Linked DNA regions of Homo sapiens. The protein of the gene in region 2 interacts with the protein of the main gene of each other region in a pairwise test. Each region holds a gene or a part of one and is shown on either strand. Other genes may lie near its edges.

What was found.
Region 1: the proteins of SPMIP10 (region 2) and NRF1 interact in binary tests that used the Homo sapiens proteins (3 or more experiments, as listed by UniProt).

Annotation. Positions count from the first base shown.
Region 1 is NC_000007.14:129,705,430-129,713,024, reverse strand, and holds part of NRF1 (nuclear respiratory factor 1), read right to left. Parts: intron 3,951-7,595; coding exon 3,792-3,950; intron 2,652-3,791; coding exon 2,454-2,651; intron 1,551-2,453; coding exon 1,449-1,550; intron 1-1,448. UniProt on the Homo sapiens protein: Transcription factor that activates the expression of the EIF2S1 (EIF2-alpha) gene. Links the transcriptional modulation of key metabolic genes to cellular growth and development.
Region 2 is NC_000005.10:126,627,361-126,635,121, reverse strand, and holds the start of SPMIP10 (sperm-associated microtubule inner protein 10), read right to left. Parts: upstream 3,418-7,761; 5' UTR 3,388-3,417; coding exon 3,302-3,387; intron 2,577-3,301; coding exon 2,468-2,576; intron 1-2,467.

The DNA.
Region 1 (7,595 bases), on a different chromosome or scaffold from region 2:
GAAGTTACTTTCTTTAAATAGTACCAAGAAACATTCAGTAGAGACATATGGTTGATAACTTTGTCTAAGCCAAAAACTAACACATCTCCTAACTGTACCCCTCGTTGTCTTTTCCACCTCTTTCAGACTTTAAGGAGTGTCATCTTGTTCTAGTGTTCTGGGACTGACAAATTCTTTGCTTTGCTAATCCATATCCTTTAATGATGTTTATATACTTAGAAAGTAAGTGTCCTGTCAACCTTCACCTTTCCTCACCCAATAACCAAGTTTTTCAGTGTCCCAAACTTTCCCAGGCTCCTTAGGTGGAAAGGAGGCACATACGCTTTGCAGCATCCCTTACAGGAAGGCTAGAGTTCATTCACGTAGACATCTCTCTTCCCCACTAGACTGGAGTCCCATGACAGCAAGGATCCTGTGCGAATCAACTCCACACAGCTGCAGCTACACAGGGGTTTGGCACATGCAGGGTGGCCAAGGAGCCTGTGGTGCACTCTCCCTCCATCTCCCAGCCATGTGGCCTTTGCCAGCTCTCCCCCTCTCCTGAGGGGCACAAATGAAAGTGACTTTGTGGTGTTCTAAGGGGAAATGCTCCATGGCTCTCAACAAGGGTGAGATAATACTCTTAGCTTTATTTCTGATACTGCTCTTTGACATCTGTTGGCTATTTTTCAAACTTCAGCACACCACATCAGTATCTTCAAGGGAAACACTCATGGTGACGTAACAAACCCCTTCCTTCACTGTTGCATCTTCACCAATGGCTCAGAGCCTAGGTAATGTTTTTCTCAATGCATTATCCAGCTTCAACACTGCTATGGGACTTTGGGCAAATCATCTAAGCTCTGTTATGTCTCGGTTTTCTCATCTCTAAAGTGAAGATAACAGAACTTTATACTTCATAGGGTTGAGTGTTTAGCCCACCAAGTGATCAATAAAGGTTGGCTGTCTTTAGGTTAATGTCCCATAATTATCCCAATTTTGGTAAGGAAGAATTCTCCTAAGAAATCTTTTCAAAGGCATATTTAAGATGTAATAAATCATGTTACTGACTTGCAAACATATTTATCCTTTCAAAGAAGGCTTCCCTTAGTCAGTTCCAGTTTTAATGTGACATTTTTTTTTCATAAAGACCAAAGATGAAATTCTTTGGGATTCACAGCATAAAAATGGTAAAGGGATAATCCCTTTGTATTGTGTATAATACCAAATGCTATACATTCAAATGTAAAATTCTAAGTTCCTGACATACTAATCCATGAATCTTAATTGTTACAATTAATACACATAGCATAAGACACTTTCTAAAACTTTCATGGTCTCATGCTCTTTAAAAGGTTTAAATGAAAGAGTGCCGCAGACATGCAGGCTACTCCATCTTCTGGACCCTTGCTTTTCCCTCATTATACATTCAAGTATTTAAGAAGATGCAGATGGAATCTCTTTCTTACCTCTCCATCAGCCACGGCAGAATAATTCACTTGGGCAACGGTGACCGTGGTTGGCAATTCTGAAGCATCAGCCAATGTGGCTACTGTTGCCCCCGTACCAACCTAAAGAAAAATATGGAAAGTGGTTAAGTGTCAGTGGATGGATCCTTCCACCTCTTTACTCAGAAGCTGAGACTCATTTAATCCCAAATTCAGCACAGATAACAAAGAATATGCCTTATGATGTGAAATCTAAAATCATAGCTCACTAAAATCATAGTTCAGAGACTATCACGAGTTTCAGAATTTTACTTCAACCAAATAAGTCCATATGAGAAAAGCTATCACATCGCCACATCCATGCCCAGTGTTGGTCAACCAACTTTCTATTCTCACCTCAATCTGAACTTTAGAGGTTCCCAATCAACAAATTGTGTTTTACCTCAGAAGAGGTCATTCAGAAGGAATATTCCCTGATCACTGAGAGTGAAACTGTAAAACAGAAGTCATTTTAAGGCCAGACATGGTGGCCCACATCTGTAATCCCAGCATTTTAGGAGGCCGAGGCAGGAGGATCACTTGAGCTCAGGAGTTTGAGACCAGCCTGGGCAACATAGCAAGACCTCATCTCTACTTAAAAAAAAAAAAAAAATTCAGCCAGGCCTGGTGGCATACACCTGTAGTCCCAGCTACTCGGGAGGCTGAGGAGGGAGAATCACTTGAGCCCGGGAGGTTGAGGCTGCAGTGAGCTGTGATGACAGAGAGAGATCTTGTCTCAAAAAAAAAAAGAGCCCTTTAAAAGTGCTTTGTTTTGGAAATGTCCAGGAAGCTACTCATAGCTCTGTATTTAGCAAATGCAAAGAATTTAAACTATTCTTCAGAAATCAATTTCAGGTAGGAAGATCTTGGGGAGCTATATAAAGTTCATACAAGAGTTCGCACAAAGGAAACTTTCCCTAGTCTGAGGTGAGGTGCCCACTGATCCATCTCAGAAGCCACAGTCTGGTAGCCCTCAGGTTTACTCACCTGGATAAGTGAGACAGTGCCATCAGGGTTACTAAAAGTCTGGACTACAGTCTGTGATGGTACAAGATGAGCTATACTATGTGTGGCTGTGGCCTGTGTTTGCGTTTGCTGATCTTCAAAGGCATACAAAAGGTCTTCCCGCCCATGCTGTTTATAACAGTTTTTAACTATGGTCCGTAGTGCCTGGGTCCATGAAACCTGTCACCAAATGACCGGAAAAGCACATTAAGCCACAAAGAACTTTGGTTATTTAGTCCCAATATGCAATAAGCAGCTACTTCTTTATCAAATCAAACCAAACCAAACCTCTTATTAGACTCTCCTAGGATTACCTCCCACAGACTGGTTCTGGTAGAAAGAAGCTGTGTACGAAGTATCAAAGAGGGCTTCTCATTGGTTTCTTCTTGATCAAAGTCTAGTTTACACCCTATTCCAACCTGAGGCCAAACTCTTAAACTTCTTGCAAAGAAAGATTATTCTGATCAAGAATGGCATATTAAGATTCTCAGTAAACTTCCAAGCTAAATGAAAAATAAATACGTGGCCAGGCATGGTGGCTCACGCCTGTAATCCCAGCACTTTGGGAGGCTGAGGAGGGCGGATGGCCTGAGGTCGGGAGTTCGAGACCAGCCTGACCAGCATGGAGAAACCCCATCTCTACTGAAAATACAAAATTAGCTGGGCATGGTGGTGCATGCCTGTAATCCCAACTACTCGGGAGGCTGAGACAGAAGAATTGCTTGAACCCGGGAGGCAGAGGTTGCGGCGAGCCGAGGTCACGTCATTGCACTCCAGCCTGGGCAACAAGAGTGAGACTCTGTCTCAAAAAAAAAAAAAAAAAAGAAAGAAAAGAAAGAAAAAGAAAAATAAATACGCAAAAAAAGTAAGGAATGGTAGGTAGTTTAGTCTTTCTTGTAAAAGTTTTGTTATTAGCAGACTCAGCTGGCAGACTTCATATCCCTCTAATTCCATATTTACATTTTCAACAATGATTTTTAGTAACCAGAAATAAAAGCATTTCTAAGTGTTCAAAGTGATTAATACTTTTACTTCAAGTTTCTTTGACTTTCCCAAGCACTTCATAAAATTAAAACTGCTCCAAAAGGCAACCCCGAAGACACATTTTAAATTCATCAACTCAACCCAGTCTTCTCTTTATAGTATAGTGATGGAGCGACAAATGGAAAAGGCTATAAATCAAAGAATATCAGTCTTTGGAGGGACAGGCTTAACTATTACACAAAGACTTTCTAGCACAAGATGTAGAAATGACAAAAATTGAGGTGGTTAATTTAGGATGGAAAAGCAACCAGGCAACTCAGTCAGAGGAACTCTCACCCTCTGCTTTTGCTCTTCTGTGCGGACATCACTCCGGACATTTGCCCAGGGGATATCTTCAGGCCACCAGATGGGCTTGCAGCTTTCTTTCCCCCAGCCTGGTTTTCCCCGACCTGTAGAGTACTTGAGCATCTCTGGGATAAATGCCCGAAGCTGGGCCTGGAAGAGAACAGTGTGGTCATCAATACTCATGAAAGACATCTGGGGTGTGTTTATGACTCCTTAAATTCTAACCTTATAAAACAGAGAGGTTTCCAGGAAGGTCCCAGAGAATTCTAAGATGTGACTGATGAAAACCCACTGTTTTCCATAGGTTCCTATATCTCCATGGGTGGTTGAGAATTATAAATATGTTGATAAAGTGCACCTTAGGCTGCATTTTGTAGACTTGTTCCTCTAAGAGTAAGAATATCTACCCCTAAGTTTAATTTCTGCTTCCCAAGATATTACTGGTACTATAGCTTATTTCCCTTCTACAGTTTTCATGCATGTAAGGTGCCAAACTCGGGGTGTTTTCAACACTGTTCTGGAAGTAGGAATCCATGCAATTAGATAAGAGAGAAATAAGAGGCGAGCTGATAAAATCATTATTATTTATAGATGAAGTCACCTTATATCTAGAGAATTCCAAAGAGATCAAATGAAAAACTACTACAAACAATAATGAGAATTCAATAAGGTGGCTGATTATAAAATATAGGAAAACAAACAGGCCTTTAACTTAATAAAAAGGGAAAATAACCCTAAAACTCTTCTAGAAATTTTCCAGTAAGCTAGGCCACTGTCCATGAGTCTGACATATAGACATAGTAAAGCATGTGTGAATTTAAATGCATTATGGACTTCATTCAGATTTATTTTACAAATCAAATCCAGACCAAACAGGTTTTAAACCACAAAGACAACTGCCATTCTTATTTCCTGGCATAGTAACCACACTCTGTGTGTGTTGGGGGAGGGTCTACTTTGTGAATATTCTTAATCGCTGATAATGATTTCTGGCAAGAAAAGCAGTTTATCAATTTATGATCTATTCCTCCTTCCCAGACCTACTGTCTTCCTTTTAACCTGGTGGTCTATAGCACTCCAGATATAAGTAGCATCCTGCAACTAAGGATGCACCCATACTGCCCCTGCAGCTGAAAACCAAAAAGAGGCCACTTTTAGCAATGAATCAGACTCGGGGGTGTGGATTTGTAGTTACAAAGTAAAACAAGAAAAAACAGAAATGAGAATAATTAAGTATTAATGAGAGAATGAGTACAGCAACACTTTAATATTAAAGATTTCTATAAATATCAGGTATTCTTATCATTCTTATAATAAATATTAGATATTATTTTACGAGAAGATGATACAAATTGTTACATAATAGGGAACCATGAACCCAATCAGTAATGTTGACCTAATAAAGTTCTGGTTGACGGTAGCCATGCTGTTAATTCCTGTGCCAAGCCTGCCACTTCACCTCTCTAAGTCCCCCAATGCCCCAACAGTCTCCTGCCTACAGGATATGATATAATACACTCCATATATATTTGGCTCTGGCATCAAGCAGCAGGCTGATAGAAACGTATCCATTTAAAAACCCATCAGCTGGCTCATGCGGTCATTACTTCAGTTATTTTAAGAAAGTACATCTCAAAGTCATTTTTCCCTTTATTCTAATTTCTTGGGAGTGTGTCTTTTTCTAGGCTCAAATACATAGAGCAAGAAAGGGCTTAATCTTCACACACAATATTTTATACTTCTTCATGTTAAAAAAAATGGCTTTCTCAGAGGTATAGATTAAATTGATATAGACTTTCATAAACTCCCTTTTCTTTGAATACCATTAACAGTTTCCAAAAAGGAGAATTCTTTATATTCATACCTAGGAGAGTCTGGAGAAAATGAAATGAGAAGGCTAAATAATTCTAAATTAACAAAATCCTAAAGTGGGTTGGGTGCAGTGGCTCATGCCTATAATCCCTGCACCTTGGGAGGCTCAGGCAGGCAGAATGCTTGAGACCAGGAGTTTGAGACCAGCTTGGGCAACACAGTGGGACTCTGTCTCTACCAAAAATACAAAACTCAGTCGGTTACAGTGGCACGTGCCTGTAGTCCCAGCTACTAGAGAGGCTGAGGCAGGAGGATCGCTTGAGCTCAGGAGGTCAAGGATGCAGTGAGCCATGATGGTGCCACTTCACTCCAGCCTGGGTGACAGAGTGAGACCTTGTCTCAAAACAAAACAAAACAAAACAAAACAAAAATCCTAAAGCGGGTGACAGAGCAAGACCCTGTCTTAAACCAAACAAACAAAACAGAAATCCTAAAGTGATCAGAAAGCACTCACTGTGGAGAATACTAGACTGACAGAGTCTGCTCAGATCCACCTGGAACCCTCTATATTCCCTAATTCTGGTGATCGCTTCACTTCTGACGCCTCACCCTATTTGCACCAATAGTTCCTTATGCTCCTCAGTTCTGGGTCACGTTGGCACCTGGACGTGGATATCTTTCACCCTCAAGTCTTCCTTCGGCTCTCCCACCAGGCCTTCCAACTGAGTTCCAATAACTCAATGTTACTTGAAAGGTGGGCTCAGCATCAGCCTCTTCACTTAAACTCCTACCCTACCCTCTCTCCAATCTACTTGTCTTCTCAACTTTTTTATCTTAGCAAGTAGAAAACCACCCTTTCCCCGGCCACTCAAACTAAAAATGTCAAAGTTATCTTTACTTTTCTCCTTCAACACTTACCTAGTCACACATTGCAAGTCCAGTTCTTTTGTTTTCTTTGAAACGTCTCTGGTGTCTATCCCTTCTTCTCCGGCCCCACCTTTATTCTAATTTTTTGGCCCAAGGCTAGTGTATCCTTCTAGTTGGCTTTCTTGGGAAACTCCAAGTTCTCCCTTCATTCCCTCTTCCCACATATCCTTGCCTGAGAGGTTTTCCTAAATGTTACCTACATAGCTCCAATGCTCAAAACACCTCCAAATGTCTTTTAACTATGGCAACTAAACTAGATCCTTCTGCCCAGCTTTTCAGACCCACCACAATCTGGCCTCACACTACAGTCAGTTCCCATTAATTCCCACCACTCAGCCTTGGTCCTCCATCAGACAAATCTCTGCACTGTCTTAAGAGCTGCTAAGCCCATTCCCGCTTCTTTGCCTTTGTTCTGTCCCCTGGCTGGACTATTTTCCATGCTACTATTCTAATGCCGCCACTCATTCTTTAGTGCCCAGAAAAGTCCTACATTCTTTGTGGAACATATACTAACTATTCATTCATTCTCTCTCTCTCTCTCTCTCACTCTCGGATCTTGCTCTGTGGCCCAGGCTGGAGTGCAGTGGCATGATCACAGTTCAATGCAGCCTCAACCTCCAGGGCTCAAGGGATCCTCCTGTTTCAGCCTTCAGTAGTTGGGACTAAAGGCGCATGCCACCATGCCCAGCTATTTTTTTTCTTTACTTTTCCTTCTTTTCTTTTTTTTCTTTTTGTAGAGAAGGGGTCTCCCTACATTGCCCAGGCCAATCTCCAACTCCTGGACTGAAGCAATCCTCCTGCCTCAACCACCCAAAGTGCTGGGATTTCAGGTGTGAGTCAGTGCACTCAGACTCACTTCTCTTAAGTTAGCTCTTTCTACCAAAAAGAACACAAGGGCCGGGCTTGGTGGCTCACGCCTGTAATCCCAGCACTCTGGAAGGTCAAGGAGAGCAGACTGCCTGAGGTCAGGAATTTGAGACCCACCTGGCCAACATGGTGAAACACCGTCTTTACTAAAAATACAAAAATTAGCCAGGCATGGTGGCACATACCTGT
Region 2 (7,761 bases):
ATCATAGCTCACTGCAGCCTGGAACTCCTAGGCTCAAGCAATCCTCCTGCCTCAGCCTCCCAAGTAGCTGGGACTACAGCACACACCACAATGCCTGGATAATTTTTTTTTTTAATAGACAGGATCTCGCTATGTTGCTCTGGCTGGTCTTAAACTCCTGGCCTCAAACTATCCCCCTGTCTCAGCCTCCCAACGTGCTAAGATTAGAGGCATAAGCCACTGCACCTAGTCTGTGTGCTATATTTTTTAATGTTGTTAGATGCAGTTTTTAACTCCTAATGGAAAAATGGTGAGGATAAATAAAAGGAAGGAAAGCATAAGTTAGCATTTACTAGCATTTACTCAGTGTGGGCACATTCACTTTACTTAATTCACTTATTTAAGTTTCATTGGTAGGAACACTGTCAACTAAATTGCAAAAGTAAAATAGCTCTGAAAAATGATGCTGAATTATACTCTAAAAGTAAGGTCAAGAATAAGTGTTTTGATGCAATCAAAACAAAGTTTTTCTTTACTGATTTCAACTTATAAAGTTTACAACCTATAATTCTCATAAATGAAAAAGTCAGTACTGTCACCATGCTGAAGCTACTTAGGGCATTGAAAATGACCTTGATATGCCACTAAATTACATGAAATGCAGACTAATATTAAGACTGTAGTAAGTCTGAGTAAACATTTATTTATTTGTTTGAGATGGAGTCTTGCTCTGTTGCCCAGGCTGGAGTGCAGTGGCGTGATCTGGCTTGCTGCAGTGTGTCTCCCGGATTCAAGCGATTCTCCTGCCTCAGCCTCCCAAGTAGCTGGGATTACAGGCATGTGCCATCATGCCCGGCTAATTTTTGTATTTTTAGTAGAGATGGGGTTTCACCATGTTGGCCAGGCTGGTCTTGAACTCCTGAACTCAGGTTATCTGCCCGCCTCCGCCTCCCAAAGTGCTAGGATCACAGGCATGAGCCACCACGCCAGCCAGAAAATGTTTTAAAACAAGCCTGTTGGAATCCCTGCTTTCAATTATTTTGAGCATATACTTAGAAGTGGAATTGCTGAATCATATGGTAATTCTATGTTTAATTTTTTGAAGAATGGTCTCACTATCTTCTACAGTGGCTGCGGCATTTTACCTATAGTAGTTTTCCTGCTGTTATAAAACTACTGACTGGAGCCGGGTACAGTGGTTCATGCCTGTAATCCTAGCACTTTGGGAGGCTGAGGCAGGAGAATCGCTTGGGCCCAGGAGACCAGCCTGGACCACATAGTAGAGATCCCATCTCTACAAAAAATACCAAAACTCTCCGGGCATGGTGGCATGTGCCTGTAGTCCCAGCTGCTCAGGAGGCTGAGGTGGGAGGATCACCTGAGCCCAAGAGGTTGCTGCAGCTGCAGTGAGCCATGATTGCATCATTGCACTCCTGTCTGGGTGACAGAGTGAGATCCTGTCTCTAAATAAATAAATAAAGTAGGCCCGGTGTGGTGGCTAACTCCTGTAATCCTAGAATTTTGGAAGGCCGAGGCAGTAGGATTGCTTGAGCTCAGGAGTTCAAGACCAAACTGGAAGACATAGTGAGACCCCATCTCTACTAAAAATCAAAAAGCTAGCAAGGTGTGGTGATGTGCACCTGTAATCCCAGCTACTTGGGAGACTGAGGCAGGAGGATCAATTGAGCTCAGCAGATGAGGCTGCAGTGAGCTGTGATCACGCCACTGCACTCCAGCCTGGATGACAGAGCGAGACCCTGTCTCCAAAAAGAAAAAAAGGAATAAATAAATAAAACTGCTGACTGAACAGGAGCATTGAATGGGTAAATCATGTGTAAACTAGCCAAAATATTCCCATGCCTCTCTATCTGAATATGCAGTATAATCTAAAAAATATATGCTTTGTAGTGTACCTTTAATATTAATGGCATCTTCTGATGATGAGTTTAACAACTGCAAGATAGCATGATGTAGAGTTTCTGAAATTCTTCGGTATATAATTAGGTTATTTAAACAGATATTACTATTTAACATTTGTTTGCAAGTTTGTGACAGTACATCAAAATAGTTTTTGTATAGTTACACACGTCTATCACAGACATACTAAATTATATATATATATATATATATATATGTAAAATTTATTTATTTATTTAGAGACAGAGTCTAGCTCTGTTGCCCAGGCTAGATTGCAGTGGCGCAATCTTGGCTTACTGCAACCTCTGCCTCTCGGGTTCAAGAGATTCTCATGCCTCAGCCTCCCGAGTAGCTGGGATTACAACTGCCCGCCACCATGCCCAGCTAATTTTCATATTTTTAGTAGAGATGGGGTTCCGCCAGTTGGCTAGGCTGGTCTCGAACTCCTGACCTCAAGTGATCCACCCGCCTCGGTCTCCCAAAGTGCTAGGATTATTGGCACAAGTCACCGCATCCGGCTTAATGTTTTTGTTTTTGTTTTTTTTCCTTATGTGTGCTTATGGGGAAATACCTTCAGATTCACATTCCTGAATATCATGTTTTCTTTCCAAGGCATGACATAACGTCTTGGGATCATCCCTTGCTTTAATGAAAATCGTGGCAAATGAATCTCTTCATACCTGATGATTAGGAAAGCAAGAAGACATCTTGTGAGCCAAATACAATCATTTTAGCATCATTCCAGGCACTGGAGGCAGTTGTGCATTCATGTTTGGTCCCCTGCTGTTGCAGGACAGACGGCTGTGCCATTGAAACTCAGCTAAAAGATAACCATTTAAGTACCCATGTATCAGCAAGATCAAGTCAGGGCCAGGTATCTGTAATTCTAACTGCATGCTGTCCTTTACAATTTGCCCACAATGTCCATTTTAATCTGACTTTTTTTTTTTTTTTTTTTTTTTTTTTTAATGAGATGGAGTGCATTATCATGCCCAGCTGGGGTTTTGCCATGTTGGTCAGGCTGGTCTCGAATTCCTGACCTCAAGTGAACCACCCACCTTGGCCTCTCAAACTGTTGACATTACAGCCGTGAGCCACTGCACCCTGCCCATTTTAACTTGACTTTAAGGGAAAAGGCAAGGCACCTAGATTTGCCTCAGGCCTACCGACTGCCTAAAGGAAATGTCTGGCCAGCCACAAAAAACAGAAACTATATTGGCTTCTGAATTTATGTATGCTCTACACTCAGGTCAGATTTGCTTTCCCTGCACACATATTTCCCTCTGGAACATAAAGCTTTCTGTATAGATGCCAAAGGGGAACACAAAGTTATTGACCGTATCTTTGTGGCTCCCAGGTTGCAAAACAAGCAAACAAAAAACCCCAGAATCCCATAAATCCTTACTTATTAGCAGATTTATAGAGACTCTCATCAGAGCAGTTGTTAGTGAGTTTAGGCAAAGTAGGACAAGTATCTTTCCCTGAAGCCATTCCTGACAGCAATGGATGGAATACTCATCTAAAACTTCACTAACTCACTAGTCTAATTATGATGACAACGCTGCTCTGATGTAACAATGTTTTGCTAACTTCATAGTAACTCTCGGCAGTTACAGTAGCAGTTAAGAGTGTCCAGCTCACAGGTGTGGTGGTGGGTGCCTGTAATCCCAGCTACTCAGGAGGCCAAGGCAGGAGAATCACTTGAACCCAGGAGGCAAAGGTTGCAGTGAGCCGAGACTGCGCCACTGCACTCCAACCTGGGTGACAGAGTGAGACTCTAAATCAAAAAAAAAAAGTGTCCAGCTCAGAGCTATTTTCAGGGCTTTAAAAAAAATCCCCCTTCTGGCCTGGCACAGTGGCTCATGCCTGTAATCCTAGCACTTTGGGAGGATGTGGCAGGAGGATCACTTGAGCCCAGGAATTTGAGACCAGCCTGGGCAACATAGTAAATTCCGGTCTCTACAAAAAATAAAAAAATTTGGCCAAGTGTAGTGGCTCATGCCTGTAATCCCAGCGCTTTGGGAGTCCGAGGCAGGTGGATCACTTGAGGTCAGGAGTTCAAGACCAGCCTGGCCAACATGGTAAAACACCTTCTCTACTAAAAACACAAAAATTAGCCAGGCATGGTGGTGTGCGCCTGTAATCCCAGCTACTTGGGAGGCTGAGGCAGGAGAATTGCTTGAATCCGGGGGCAGAGGTTGCGGCAAACAGAGATGATGCCACTCCACTCCAGCCTGGGTGACAGAGCAAGATTCCATCTCAATAAATAAATAAATAAATAAATAAATAAATAAATAAATAAGCAAGCTGGGCGTGGTCACATGTACTTGTGGTCCCAGCTATTTGAAAGGCTGAGGCAGGAGGATCACTTGAACCCAGGAGATCGAAGCTGCAGTGAGCTGTGATTGCACCACGGCTCTCCAGTCAGGGCAACAAAGCAATACCTTGTCTCCAAAAAACAAGACAAAACAAAACAAAATAAAACAAATTCCTTTTTGAGTAGAACATCATTCTTATAATGAGCAATTAAAAATGAAGATGTTTGTGACACAAATTTGACACATACTAGAAAATACGTTGAACTGAACAATTATTCAGTAATTAAAAAATAATCACTTCAAATTAACATTCTGTATTGGTCCGTGGCTGATTTTCCTCTTTATATATTGCGTATGCCACCTACAGTCAACCGATTTTCAACAAAGGTGCCAAGAACACACACGAGGGAAAAGACAGTCTCTTCAATAAACAGTGCTGGGGAAATTGAACATCCCCATGAAGAAGAATGAGACTAGACCCCTACCTCTCACCATACACAAAAATCAACTCAGAATGGATTAGGATTAAATGTAACTTGAAACTACAAAACTACTAGAAAACATACAGAAATACTCTACAACATTGGGCTGGGCAAGGTTTTTTTTTTTTTTGAGACGGAGGTTCTCACTCTGTCACTCAAGGTTGAGTGCAGTGGCACAATCACGGCTCACTGCAGCCTCAACCTCAATCAATCGTGGGCCCAGGTGATCTTCCCACCCCAGCCTCCCAATAGCTGGGACCACAGGTGTGCACTACCATGCCTGCCTAATTTTAAAAATTTTCTTTTTTTTTGAGACAGAGTCTCACTCTGTCACCAGGCTGGAGTGCAGCGGTGCGATCTCAGCTCACTGCATCTTCCGACTCCCTGGTTCAAGCGATTCTCCTGCCTCAGCCTCCCGAGTAGCTGGGATTACAGGCATGTGCCACAACGCCCAGCTAATTTTTGTATTTTTAGTAGAGACAGCATTTCACCATGTGGGCCAGGATGGTTTTGATCTCCTGACCTCATGATCTGACCGCCTTGGCCTCCCAAAGTGCTGGAATTACAGGCGTGAGCCACCGCGCCCAGCCTAATTTTTAAATTTTTTATAGAGATGGGGTTTTGCCATGTTGCCCAGGCTAGTCTTGAACTCCTATGCTTATGTGATTCACCCACTCAAGCCTCCCAAAGTGCTGGGATTACAGGTGTGAGCCACTTTGCCTGGCCCAAGGATTTTTAAAATAAGACCTCAGCAAAACAGGCCAACAAAAGCAAAAATAAACACATGGGATTACATCAAACTGACAGGCTTTTGCACAGCAAAGGAAACAAGAGTGAAGAGACAACCTACAGAATGGGACAAAACATCTGCAAAATATATATCTGACAAGGGGTTAAAAACCAGACTACATAAAGAACAGTGAAAAATGACCAATCTGATTTAAAACTGGGTAAAATGACTGGGTGTGGTGGCTCATGCCTATAATACCAGCACTTTGGGAGGCTGAGGCAGGAGGATTGCTTGAGCCCAGGAGTTCGAGACCAGTGTGGTGCTAAGCATGATGGATCCTCAGGCAGGAAGATCGCTTGAGCCTGGAAGGTCGAGGCTGCAGTGAACCATGACTGTGCCACTGCACTCCCAGCCCAGGCAACACAGCGAGACACTGTCTTAAAAGGTGAAAGATCTTAGTAGACATTTCTCAAAAGAACACATGCAAAGGTCAAGTAATGAAAAAATGCTCAACATCACTATATACTGCACAACTGATATGTGTCCCATTTATGTTTCACCATCTATTACATGCAGCTCAAGAGTGTAAATCCAATTTGTTTAAACTCAAACCAATCCAGCCTATTTTATCCCCTAAGATTTGTCATATTGCAGAATATTTTAGGTTATGAAAACTGATTTTAATAAAGAAAGGTTACTAGTGAGGATAAATGCTTAAACTACTATAACAGAGAGGTGGATGGTTATTAGTGTAAGTCCTACCCACTGGCAAGTAGAAAAAATATTATTAGGCTAAGCAGGAAGAATTACTGCAAGATATGCTGGTTTGATGAGAGCATAAACTAAAAGAATACATACCTAAGAACAGTTTGCACATCTTGATTTGGATAGCCAGAAAGGTTCAGAGTCATCTTAGATAATTTTTTATTATATTTTTGGAGATGGAGTCTAGCTCTGTGCCCAGTCTGGAGTGCAGTTGCATGATCTTCGTTCACTGCAACCTCCGTCTCCCGGGTTCAAGCAATTCTCCTGCCTCAGGCTCTCAAGTAGCTGGGACCACAGGCACACACTGCCATGCCCAGCTGATTTTTTGTATTTTAGTATAGACGGGGTTTCACCGTGTTGCCCAGGCTGGTCTCGAACTCCTGAGCTCAGGCAATCCGCCTGCCTCGGCCTCCCAGTGTTAGAATTACAGGTATGAGCCACCATGCCGGGCCGATAAATTTTTAAAGAACCTTAAAAACTGCCCTTTCCTCAGCTGCTGCCAAGGTGCTTGGTCATTCCAAGGAAGCTAAGGCCACATTGGGGTGAGAGCCTCACTTCATCCGGCGATTAGCACCTCATCCAGCAGCGCCAGCCCCACACACACCCGTGCCATGGCCTCCCTCTCCGAGCTCGCCTACATCTACTCGGCCCTCATTCTGCATAATGATAAAATCAATGCCCTCATTAAAGCAGCTGGTGTAAATGTTGAACCTTTCTGGCCTGGCGTGTTTGCAAAGGCCCTAGCCAATGTCAGCATCGGGAACCCCATCTGCAATGTAAGGGCTGGTGGACTTGCAGCAGCTGGAGATCCTACCCCCTCCACTGCTGCTGCTTCAGTTGAGAAGAAAGTGGAAGCAAAGAAAGAAGAATCCGAGGAATCTGATGAGGACATGGGCTTTGGTCTTTTTGACTAAACCTCTTTTACAGCATATTCAATAAAAACCTAAACTTTGAAAAAAAGAAATAACCTTAAAAATTGAAGCACTGCTTTCTGTATGGCAGTAGGATGCAACACAAGCCAGAAATCTGAGTGGTTTCCAAATGTTAAAGAAACAACTATTGGCTGGGCGTGGTAGCTCATGCCTGTAATCCCAACACTTTGGGAGGCTGAGGCAGGTGGATCACCTGAGGTCAGGAGTTTGAGACCAGCCTGGCCAACATGGTGAAACCCTGTCTCTACTAAAAATACAAAAAAATTAGCTGGGTGTGGTGGCGTGTGCTTGTAATCCCAGCCACTTGGGAGGCTGAAGCAGGAGAATCGCTTGAACTCGGGAGGCGGAGGTTGCAGTGAGCTGAGATGGTGCCATTGCATTCCAGCCTAGGCAACAAAAGTGAAAACTCCGTCTTAAAAAAAAAGAAAAAGAAAAAAAAAAACAACTATTGCTAAAAAACCAGGAAGGTGTGGGGAAGAAACAATCTTGATGAAGATAAAGTAGCTTCAGGCATCAACGCCCTTTAAAAGGCATAACTTTTGCTAGAAAAATTGGCAATATTTACATTAATATGTGGCATTTAAGTATTCAGAATAATTATCTTTCTTAATGTACTATTTCTAAAATCACCTCCCATA